Regions from separate parts of the Homo sapiens genome. Here region 1 is linked to region 2. The links come from fine-mapping of genetic effects on gene expression. A gene starts in region 2. The other region holds a variant in brackets. All regions are shown on one strand. Distances are between the middles of the regions.

Region 1 (5,382 bases), 87 kb after region 2:
AGTGGTGTGATCAGACTTTTGTGTTGGAAACATCCTCTGTAGAGAAAGAAGGGTGGAAGATAGATTGGAGGGCAGCAAGACTGGAGGCAAGAAAGACCAGTGGGAGGATGCTTGTTTAATATTTAGTTTAAGAGAGACAATGAAGACAAGAACAGGGCAGTGGGGTAGAGATAGAGAAGAAAAGTTTATAAGATACATAGGATTTGGTGATTGATTACTTATGGAGCAAGAAAGAGAGACATTTCTGGCTTGGTCAGCTTGACATTTCTCAAGATAGAGAAGACAGAGGAATAGGATTTTTGTGGCAGGGGTTGGGAAGAGGAAGGATCCCTCTGTGGTCTCAGTCTAGGAAGTCCCCCAACCTTCCTTGGTTCTCCATGACCTGAACTTTGAGAGTCCAGATCAGTTGTCCCACACGACAGCCTATACCCTGGATCATAGTTAGATTTAAACCTGCTATTTTCAGTAGTTTACCAGTAAGTGATGTTTGTACCTCCCACTGTGTCACATCAAAGAGAATCTAATGTTAGGAGCCCATCCCTTTTATAGTGAGACTTTTGACTATCATATCAGAAATTGTCCAGATTATTGGATCTTACAAATCAGACATATATGAGTATATATATATATATTTTTTTTTTGGTGGTCCTGGTCTTTTGTAAAAAATGATACATGTTCTGAGTATTTCATCTTTAAAGTATGGCTTAATGAAAGCCAACTTTGGAGCTATTTATTCAGATTGTTTTTTCTTGGTTTTATGTTCCCATGGAAACCTGTATAGCAAATAGGTTGTTCTGAGTGAGGCCTGGCCTGGTTCAGTTAAATCCAAAGGCTTCAGTCAATCTGGTTCACTGACATGAGTAATTTTCTGTCTGCCTAACCATTATCCCCTACAATTCTGATAGATAAACCAGTGTTTAAGGGGCAGACAGAGAGGAGTTGCCTACTGAGAAGACTGAGAAGCAGCAGCCAGAGAGAGAAAAGGTGAATTGGGAGCAAGGGAATGTCTATATCAGTCAGGACTCATTGGTGGCAAATAACAGAAGCCAGTGCAAACCGACTGAAGGAAAGAAAGGAGAGTCTTACACAGATACGGGAGTAGTCAGATATGCAGATATAGGCATGTAACTGGAATTTGTGGCTAGAACATTTTGGGAAATGCAATAACTTCATTTTTCTTCTCTATTCCAAAATACTTGGGAAGTCACTGGTTGGTCTTGCTTGGTGAGGCCCAGCCCTGGGTGGTCAGCCCTGGCAGGAAGCGGGAGGGCTGCAAGTACAAAAACAGGGTGGTTGGGGGCCAAACTGGGTGTTAAGGGCATTTCCTAGAAAAGAAGACATTGTTGGCCAGGCTCTAAGAGGGATTTATCACAGTGATGTCAAGACACTGAGGAAAAGAGTTTCAGGATATGGGATGGGTTGCTGTGATATACAGCAGGAGGTCAAATGAGAGGGGAAAAATACTCCTTGGGTTTGGCATTTGGACTGTCAATGGTAACTTTAGCAGGATTGCTTTTAGTGGAGTGAGGGCAGGGGATTCAGGAGAGAGTGAGAAGAAAGGGGCACAAAGATCTGTGTCCTAGAAGCTTGCTTTGAAAGGAAAGAGAGATGTCCACTAGCAGCTAAGGTTTAAGGTGGAAGAGACTTTTGCTAAAGCTGGGATTCTTCACCTGGGCTCCAGGGCTCTGGGAATCTCTCAAGCCTTTGGAAATAGCATGTAAATTTACCTGCTTCTCAAAGAGATCTGTGATCCACAAATACTAAGAACCACCGTGCTAAAGGAATGGTGGCAATAGAAAGGGAGAAGTGAAGGAAATGGGAGAGGTGATAGATACCTTGAGGAGGGGGCCAGAGTAGGAGCCAGAACACAAGAAGGATGACCTTTGTTGGGAAGAGGATGGTTGGTTTATTTCTTCTTCTGAGGGGTGTGGGGGCTGGCGGGGAGGATATGAAATTCAGGGCAGGTGCAGATGCGTTTGTAGGTAGGGTGGTAGGGAACTGTGAGATTCATTCCTGATAGATTTCATTGCTTTCTCTTTTGTTTTTGGTCCAGCTTGGCCTTGCAGCAGGCTAGAATAGCTCTTCCTACAGATAGTTGGTCAAGAGATGGTCATAATCTGTTTTTTTACTTAGGCTTATCATTGGGTTTTCTGTCTCCATGATCATTCTTGACTGATGTGCCTTGTCTCTTGAGCCTGACATCCATGGTGAGTTAGAACCTGAGCTATGCTGAGCTCTCCTTCTACCTTATCCTGGAAGACCTTCTACAGTTCCCTCACTACTCCTTGTCTGTGAAGCTGACGGTATTAACAATTAATTGCACCTTTTCCCTTTCCCTAAAGGGAAGCTGCATGCAGGGATTTCCCCCAGTTTGGGGCTTCCTGTATTGGACTCTCCTGGGGGATTGTGAGTCAGTAGGCATGATTCAAGAGAGTAGGTGCTTGTGTGGGTGGATGTTCATTGGAGTTAATTGATTCACAGTGAGTGACCTTTGTTTCTTAAATGATCTTGATCCAGAAGGTAGGAAAGTGTGGCCTCTGGATATAAAATCTGAACTTCTCTTCTCATGGAATGATCTCAGCTCAGTCATTTAGGTTTTTCATGCCTTAATTTCACCATCTGCAAAATCAAATAACATTTTCCACTTATGTTAATGGAGTACTATGTCTCTTGACATTTCTGAGAGGTATCATGAGAACAAACTGTTCAACGTATTATTGTTAAAGAAAAAGCTGGAAACCCTTATAAGCCACTCCTCTGATCTGAATGTTCTAGCTGCC[A/G]TTGTGGAAGAACCGGTTTCTGAAAGAAAAGCTTAGTGACATTCTTTAGGAAATCTTACTCATGGGACAGTACTCATATGCCAGAAAGAGTGCACTTCTTTTTAATTTAAAGACTTTTTTTTTTTTTGGAGATAGGGTCTCACTCTGTCACCCAGGCTAGAGTTCAGTGACATGATCATGGCTTACTGCAGCCTTGACCTCCTGGGCTTAAGCCATCCTTCTGCCTCAGCCTCCTCACTCACTTGTCATCATACCAGGCTAATTTTTTTTTCATTTTTAGTAGAGACAAGGACTCACTGTGTTGCCTAGGTTGGTCTTGAACTCTTGGGCTAAAGTGATCTTCCTGCCTTGGCCTCCCAAAGTGCTGGGCTTTCAGGCATGAGCCACCACACCTGCCCCATAATGGCATTTTTGACCTAAAGACATGTATCTTTCTGCTTTTGATTTTCACAGATTCTTGAAGCTGGTATCCTTTCTATACTACTAAGATTCCCTTTAAAAATAATTTAATAGTAATAAATCAGCAATCATTAAGCTACCTGGGACTTAGCTGTACTTTTAAAAAATGTTGCATTCAATTTATTCTTTTTTATTTTTTGAGATAGAATCTCACCCTGTCACCCAGGCTGGAGTGCAGTGGCACCATCATGGCTGACTGCAGCCTCAACCTCCTTGGGCTCAAGCAAACCTCCCATGTCAGCCTCCTGTGTAGCTGAGACTACAGGTGCATGCCATCATGCCCAGCTAATTTTTGTATTTTTTTGTAGAAATTGGGTATTGCTGTGTTGCCCAGGCTGGTCTTGATCTTCTGGGCTCAAGTGATCCACCCACCTGGGCCACCCAAAGTGCTGGGATTACAGGCGTGAGCCACCATGCCTGGCCAATTTATTCTTTAAAGTTTTTTTAATTTAAAAAAATTGTGGTAAAATTACATAACATGAAACTTACCATTTTAAAGTACACAGTTCAGTGCCATTAAGTGTATCACATTGTTGCACAACTATCACCACCATCCATGTCCATGATTAGCTGAACTTCTTTAGAAATAAAAGTAAATGATCTGTTTGTTGGCTTCAGTGACTTCATCTGCTGGGGATCTGTAAAAAGGTGGTAGGCTGAGTAACTCCTTATTCCCCTTTTTTTTTTTTTTTCGAGATGGAGTCTCCCTCTGCCACCCAGGCTGGAGTGCAGTGGCGTGATCTCAGCTCACTGCAACCTCCGCCTCCCAGGTTCAAGAGATTCTCCTGCCTTAGCCTCCCAAGTAGGTGGGATTACAGGTGTATGCCACCATACCTGACTAAGTTTTGTATTTTTAGAGGAGATGGGGTTTCGCCATGTTGGCCAGGTTGGTCTCGAACTCCTGACCGCAGGTGATCTACCTGCCTTGGCCTCCCAAAGTGCTGGGATTACAGGTATGAGCCTCTGTGCCTGGTCTCATTCCTTAGAAACCTCTTACTTTTGAGGAATGGTTCCGAAATGAAATTCAAAGATGTGAAGAACAAGATGTCCTCATTAATGACTGATGTTGTCGGGGTCCACAGTAGTTTAGGATTCCTATTCCAGCTCAACTTGCAGGTTTAGACAGCTGTCCTTTGCGGACAAGGTTAAGTGATTTTAATTTGGAGGGCAGAGGAGAGTTTCCAGCTTTCTGTAACTTCTGCAAGAGTTCCAGCTTCTGTAACTTCTAAGCTCTACAGAAGAGGGCTCAGAAGAGCTTAGTAACAATGGTGGTAGCAATATCTTAAGGCTCAAATTAGCTGGCCTCAGCATTGGGGAAGCAGGAGGAGGAAGCAAGAAGGTGGCTGTGAGGGAATGAAGTGGCACAGGATCTGTCCTCAGGGAAGAAGAAGGGTGCTGTCCCAGCCTGCTGACAGGAGGGAAGAGAGATCACACTCAAGGAGTTGAAATCAGTTCAACATCCTGTTGGTAACATCTCCTTTTTTCCCCATACAGTCTAAGAAATGCAGTTAGCTCGGGTTGGGATGGTTAAGTTTGAGTATTAGAACTCTGGTGCTCCTCAACTCTTTCCCTGTGATTCAGTCTTTCTCTGGCATCATATGAAAGAAAAATATCTTCTCCACAATGATTTGCTCAATCCCTGCTCCCGAAAGACCTGCTTGTTCTAAGTGTGGCCTCATCCATACTCACCTGATTTTATCAAAGTATGTTGATGACAGGTGTTAGAAATTTCACAATTTACAGCTGCAACAACAGAAAATACTGTACCAAAGGCCAACACAGAGAGGATCCAGGAATTCCCTTGGCTGGATTAAATGTCTTTTTTGCAAGACAGAGTTGTTTTTCCCTTTGATGTGGGTATGAAAGCTTGCTCTATGTGTTTGTGGAGGTAAGTTGCTGTGGTGTTGGTTAGTGGCTCTCCCAGGGATAAAAAAGGGTTTCCTTCTCGTTAAATTAAGGAGGCCTCTGCAAATGAGGTCTGCAGATTCTGGACTTGACAAAACCCAGCATTGCCCTGTTGTCCAGAGAGTGCCAGCATAGCCTGCCCCTGGGACACCTCTCTCCTTAGCTGGCCATTCACTGCTTCTGTGATATTGTGTCGGATGAGGCCACCCTCTTCCCCATTTGTAAGCTCCTCTCTGTA
Region 2 (5,382 bases):
TTTTCCCTCGGTAGCCTCCAGGCTACTACCCACACCCAAGTCTTGTTCCGAAAGCATTTTTTTTTTTTAAACGGAGTCTTGCTCTTGTTGCCCAGGCTGGAGTGCAATGGTGTGATCTCAGCTCACTACGACCTCCGCCTCCCGGGTTCAAGCGATTCTCCTGCCTCAGCCTCCCAAATAGTTGGGATTACAGGCACCCACCATCACGCCCGGCTAATTTTTTATATTTTTAGTAGAGACGGGGTTTCACCATGTTGGCCAGGCTGGTCTGGAACTCCTGACCTCATGTGATCCACCCGCCTTGGACTCCCAAAGTGCTGGGATTATAGGTGTGAGCCACCACACCCAGCCCTGAAAGAAAATCTTATTTAAGTTGTTGGCTCCAGTAACTTTTGGACATCAAGTTAAAAATTTCTTAGCTTCTCAAACAAGGTCCTTCAGAATATGGTCCCTGTTTGCTGTCTAGGCCCATCTCTTGCTACTGCATATACATTCTTTTTGCTCCAGCCACATGGAAGTTCTTCCAGTCTTCTAAAAACATCACAACTTCATCCTTAGAATGTCTGTCTCACCCTCTCTTCCCCAAGCTCATTCATTCTTCCATTTCTGCTTGTCCTTCAACACTCAGTTCAAGCACCATTTCTCAGAAGACTTTCACAAGCCCAATCTGATTTTGTCTGGGCTATCTTGGTATCCTAAAGGATACGATCCACAAAAATATCATTTACCACACCTCACTGTAATCCATTAACTTGCCTCTCTTCCCCAGCAGACTGGGTACTTTATGAAGGCAGGTCTCAGTCTATCTGGCTTGCTATCCCAATGTCTGGCACTTGATATTACTTACTGTTTTCTTTCTTTTCTTCTCTTCTCTTCTGTTTTCTCCTCTCTTTCTCTGTCTCCTTTCTTTCCTTTCTTTTGCTCTGCCACCTAAGATGGAGTGCAGTGGCACCATCCTGGCTCACTGCAACCTCGACCTCCCGTGCTCGAGCAATCCTCCCGCCTCAACCTCCTGAGTAGCTGGGACTACAGGTGCACGCCACCACCCCTGGCTAACTTTTTGTTATGTATTTACTTATTTTTTTTGGTAGAGACGGGGTTTCACCATGTTGCTCAGGCTGGTCTCGACCTTCTGGACTCAAGTGATCCGCCAGCCTCAGCCTCCCAAAGTGCTTGGATTACAGGCATGAGCTACGGCGCTTGGCCGGCACTTGGTACTTTTAATGAATAGTTATTAACCATGAAACTTTTAAAGTTTAAGCAGTAGTATGTTTAACCTGGAAGACTTTTAACATTTAAACAGCAGGCCATTTAATTGTGGCAGTTCACATGCTACACCAGTGCATGGAGCTCCTTGTGGCCAGTGCAATGTTGCTGGCCCATCTGGCAGTGGGAAAATCTGGGCATCCAGGAGTGCATCTCTAGGGAAGTATCACCAGCCCTCACACCAATCTCAAGCTGCCTGTCTTCTGCAGAACCCACTAGATCAGCGCGCTTCTGGCCTTGACCCACTTGGTGGTTACCTACAGCCACTAAGAGGTGGGCAGATAGATGTTTTTGGTAAGTGGTCTCTGGGTTAGGGAGTGCATGGGTTATGTCCGTCTAGGGGTGTGTGTGTGTGTGTGTGTGTGTGTGTGTGTGTGTGTGTGTGTGTGCATGGGTGGGGGAAGGGAGGAAGGAGGCCGAATGTGCATCCCTTCTACAAGGACGCCTTTCCAGACCTCCTTATTAGGTGGCGTTCGCCTCCTCACCCTCTCTCAGCCCCTTATCTCCTCTTACACGGATCACGACTTGATTAATGCTTGTCTCCCAGCTAGGCCGCCAGCTGCACAAGGTAAGGAACCGAAGGCATTCCGGTTCTCCCTGGCAATCCTCCTTCTCAGAAGGATGCCTGAGGCATAACAAGTGTTCCAGAAATATTTCTTCCGCAAGCGCTCTGGGCCAGTCTGGACGGACCGAGCGCCCGCTGGGCTGCGGGGGCCCCGGGACCCCGGCCGGCACTGACGCCCCGCCCACCACCGGCCGGCCCGGGCGGGGTGGGGCGCGGCTGGGCGCTCTCGCGGGGACCGTTCTCCGGCTAGCGTGGGCGATGCCCGGGCGGGGAAACGGGAGGGGACGACGCGACGCGAGGTAGCGGCCTGGCCAATGAGCGCGGGTCGGGCGGGGCTGGGGGCCGGCGGCCGGGGCGCGCGCGGGTCTGGGCGTGCCGCGGGTGACGGCGGGGCCGGGCGGGCCAATGGGCGCTGGGTGGCGGGCGGGCGGGCCTGGCGGCCGGGGGCTTTAGGACGTGAGCGGGCGGCCGGCCGGACAGACTGACGTGTGAGCTGCATCGCGGGAGGCGCATGGCGGGGATGGCGCTGGCGCGGGCCTGGAAGCAGATGTCCTGGTTCTACTACCAGTACCTGCTGGTCACGGCGCTCTACATGCTGGAGCCCTGGGAGCGGACGGTGTTCAGTATCCTGTCCCGGCCGCGCGCGCGGGGGCCGGGCTGGGGGCGCGGGCCGCGGGGCCGCATTTCCCCAGGCCCCGGGCCTGGGGTGGAGGCTGGAGCGGCGGCCCCGCCGGTCCTGTGCGCGGAAGCCGGGGGTGCAGGGGGAGGTCTGGGGGCCGAGGGCGGCGCTCGCGGGGTTAAGTGGGGGGTGGGGGAGACGAGAACTCTTGAGATCCGGGGTCACCTGTGAGTCGCTGGACCCAAGGGGGAAGCGTCTTGATTCCTGGAGGAAATCTCCGAAGGTGATGTGTAACCCTGTGTGTCGCCTGCACTTCGGCCGCAACTGCCTTTGGTTCAGTCCCCTGTTCCTGTAGGAGGCGGGGATCATGTAACAGTGGAGCACATCGCTCCCGGCTTGGACGCCTTTGACCTTTAAGTGTTCCTGATTTAGTTGGCTTTGGGTCTACCAAGAATTCTAGTCAGTTAACTAGCTTTTAAGCCAGGTTCTGAATTTGTAGGCATGACACTCCAGTAGTTTTTGAAAGCAGTTTAAGTTATTGTATCTTTTTGGTCTTCAAGTTGGGGAGTTTTAAAAGTGTATTTATTGCTTCTGTGCACCGTCCGTAGAAGTCGGCCCGAAAAGTGGTGCAATTTGTGGTTAGTTGTCGGTAGGGTTTGAAACTGTGTTTTGGTGGATAGTTAATAAATTCTTGTTAATGACTATTGAGTGGTTACTATAAGCAAAGCATTTGTGCAAAGCACGTTGTCTGTATCTTAACTCATCTAACTTTGAGAACTTCAGTTAATAACTCAGGGTTGTGAAGATAGGCTCCCTGAAAGTCTGATGTTTCTTGTCTCTGCTTGTCCATATTGACATCCTTTGATGATATTCTTGCAGATTAAATACTGATAATGAATGAGATGTAACTTTTAAAAAACTCAGGCCAATACAAAACAGGTATTTCACAAAACATGTTTAGTTTATCCACGTTCTCTCCTTTTCAGTGTGGTTTAGTTGGAGTAGCTTACTTCAGAATAACTTTGCGAATGCATTGTTGCATTCCAGTGAGTGACTGAGGTAATTTCATTCTAAGCCTTATCAAGTGTGTTTATTTGTTTTGAGATAGCTTAAGGTTGTACTCAAAGCTGAGTCTTTTGTTTAAGCACTTTTGAGGAATTTGAGATGCTTTCAAAGCAGTTTATTTATTTATTACTGTTGGCATTTCTTTCCAAACCTGGAATTTAAGAACCAGAATGCATATTTTGGATTTAGACTCTGAATATAGTTTGCTTTGATTTCCTGCACCATTTATTTGTAGCTGCAGTTTAGTCTCACTCTTTAGGGCTCGCAAGGTCATGCCTTGTAAAATATATACTTGAATGCATATTTAATAGAAGTCTCTCAGTAGAAGCAAGTATATCTTGACTGACATAACACATCCTAAAATTAATTTAAACAATGCTGGGTTAAAATGAAACTCTTTAAATCAGAGGTTGAATGTAGAGTGCACTATTAGAATCTAGTATAGATTTGACACCTAAAATCTAATATAGATTTTACACACTAAAATGCTACAGTTATCAATGATGTTAAGATTTTTCTGTTATGTTGCAATAGTGATAGTGTCCTATAAATAACTAGGTGATGCCTTTTTTGGGGGATGGAGAAATAAATTATGAAATGAAATATAGTGCCTTAGTAGATATTTGCCTTTAATGTTTTTGAGTTACCATGGTTTAGCGACAAGTAGTTTCAATTTTTTTTTCAAATAGGTGAGAACTGCAACCAACTGACATCCAATATTATAGAACCTTATGATTTTAAACTTAAGATAAAAAAATCTTATTTCAAATTTCACGTTATTGAATTAACTCAGGTTAGAAATGCAATTGTTTGACATAAGCCAGTCTTGAATTACTATCAGCTGTTGTATTTATATTTTTCCACTTCAACTTCTAGAATCATTTAAAACTATCTGATAGTTTGGAACATCAATTTGAGATTGAATCCTCATTTTAGCTTGGTGGAAAGAACTGAATGAGAAAACTGGATTTTTTTCCCTACTTGTCAGGAGGCTTACTCTGAAGTAGTTTGAATTTCATAAATCCATTAATGATTAGTAAGCTTCACCCAGAACTAATCTGTGGCCAGCTACAGGCTTTTGGAAAGAGGCATACTTTCTACAGCTTAAACATTACATTCAACTTAATCATCAATCCTAGAAACCTAAAATTTAGAGAAATTTGCCTCTGCCTGTCTGAAAATTTGTCTCTGAGTTAGAAGTCCTGAACAGAGGAAGACTTCAGATTGATTTCTTTTCTTTGTGTGTGTGTGTGTGAGACAGTGTTTTGTTCTTGTTGCCCGGCTGGAGTGTAATGTCGCCATCTTGGCTCACTGCAACCTCCGCCTCCCAGGTTCAAGCGATTCTCCTGCCTCAGCCTCCAGAATAGCCGGGATTACAGGTGCCTGCCACCACGCCTGGCTAATTTTTGTATTTTTAGTAGAGATGGGGTTTCGCCATGTTGGCCAGGCTGGTCTCGAACTCCTGACCTCAAGTGATCTGCCCACTGCAGCCTCCCAAAATGCTGGGATTACAGGCATGAGCTACCACGCCTGGCCAGATTAATTTTCTTCTTTTTCTTTTTCTTTTTTTTTTTTTGAGACGGTGTCTCGCTCTGTTGCCGAGGCTGGAGTGTGGTGGTGCAATCTTGGCTCACTGCAACTTTGCATCCCGGATTCAAGCGATTCTCCTGCCTCAGCCTTCTGAGGTAGCTGGGATTACAGGTGCCCACCACCACGCCCAGCTAATTTTTGTATTTTTAATAGAGGCGGAGTTGGGGGTGGGGTGGGGGTGGGGTGGTTTTACCATGTTGGCCAGTCTGGTCTCAAACTCCTGACCTCAAGTGATCCGCCTGCCTTGGCCTCCCAAAAGTGCTGGGATTACAGGTGT

Alleles and levels. Positions count from the first base shown, and alleles are read on the strand shown. Sizes are in standard deviations (SD) of each study's normalised expression.
In carriers of allele G in region 1, the expression in thyroid of the gene that starts at base 2,310 in region 2 tends to be higher than with A alone (small effect, 0.31 SD a copy in GTEx).

Evidence for each region.
Region 1: its variant is fine-mapped to the expression of SPTSSA in thyroid (GTEx, PIP above 0.99).

What each region holds. Positions count from the first base shown.
Region 1 is chr14:34,372,569-34,377,950 of GRCh38, reverse strand. No RefSeq gene overlaps it. Among named protein-coding and RNA genes, the nearest start is that of SPTSSA, 87 kb to the left of the region's middle. The variant A/G (reference allele first, on the strand shown) is at 2,781.
Region 2 is chr14:34,459,168-34,464,549 of GRCh38, reverse strand. SPTSSA (serine palmitoyltransferase small subunit A) reads left to right here and starts at 2,310. Exons shown (of 2, transcript NM_138288.4): 1 at 2,310-2,454. The coding sequence starts at 2,343. RefSeq lists silencers at 1,788-2,297, 2,418-2,587 and enhancers at 1,497-2,447, 2,988-3,097.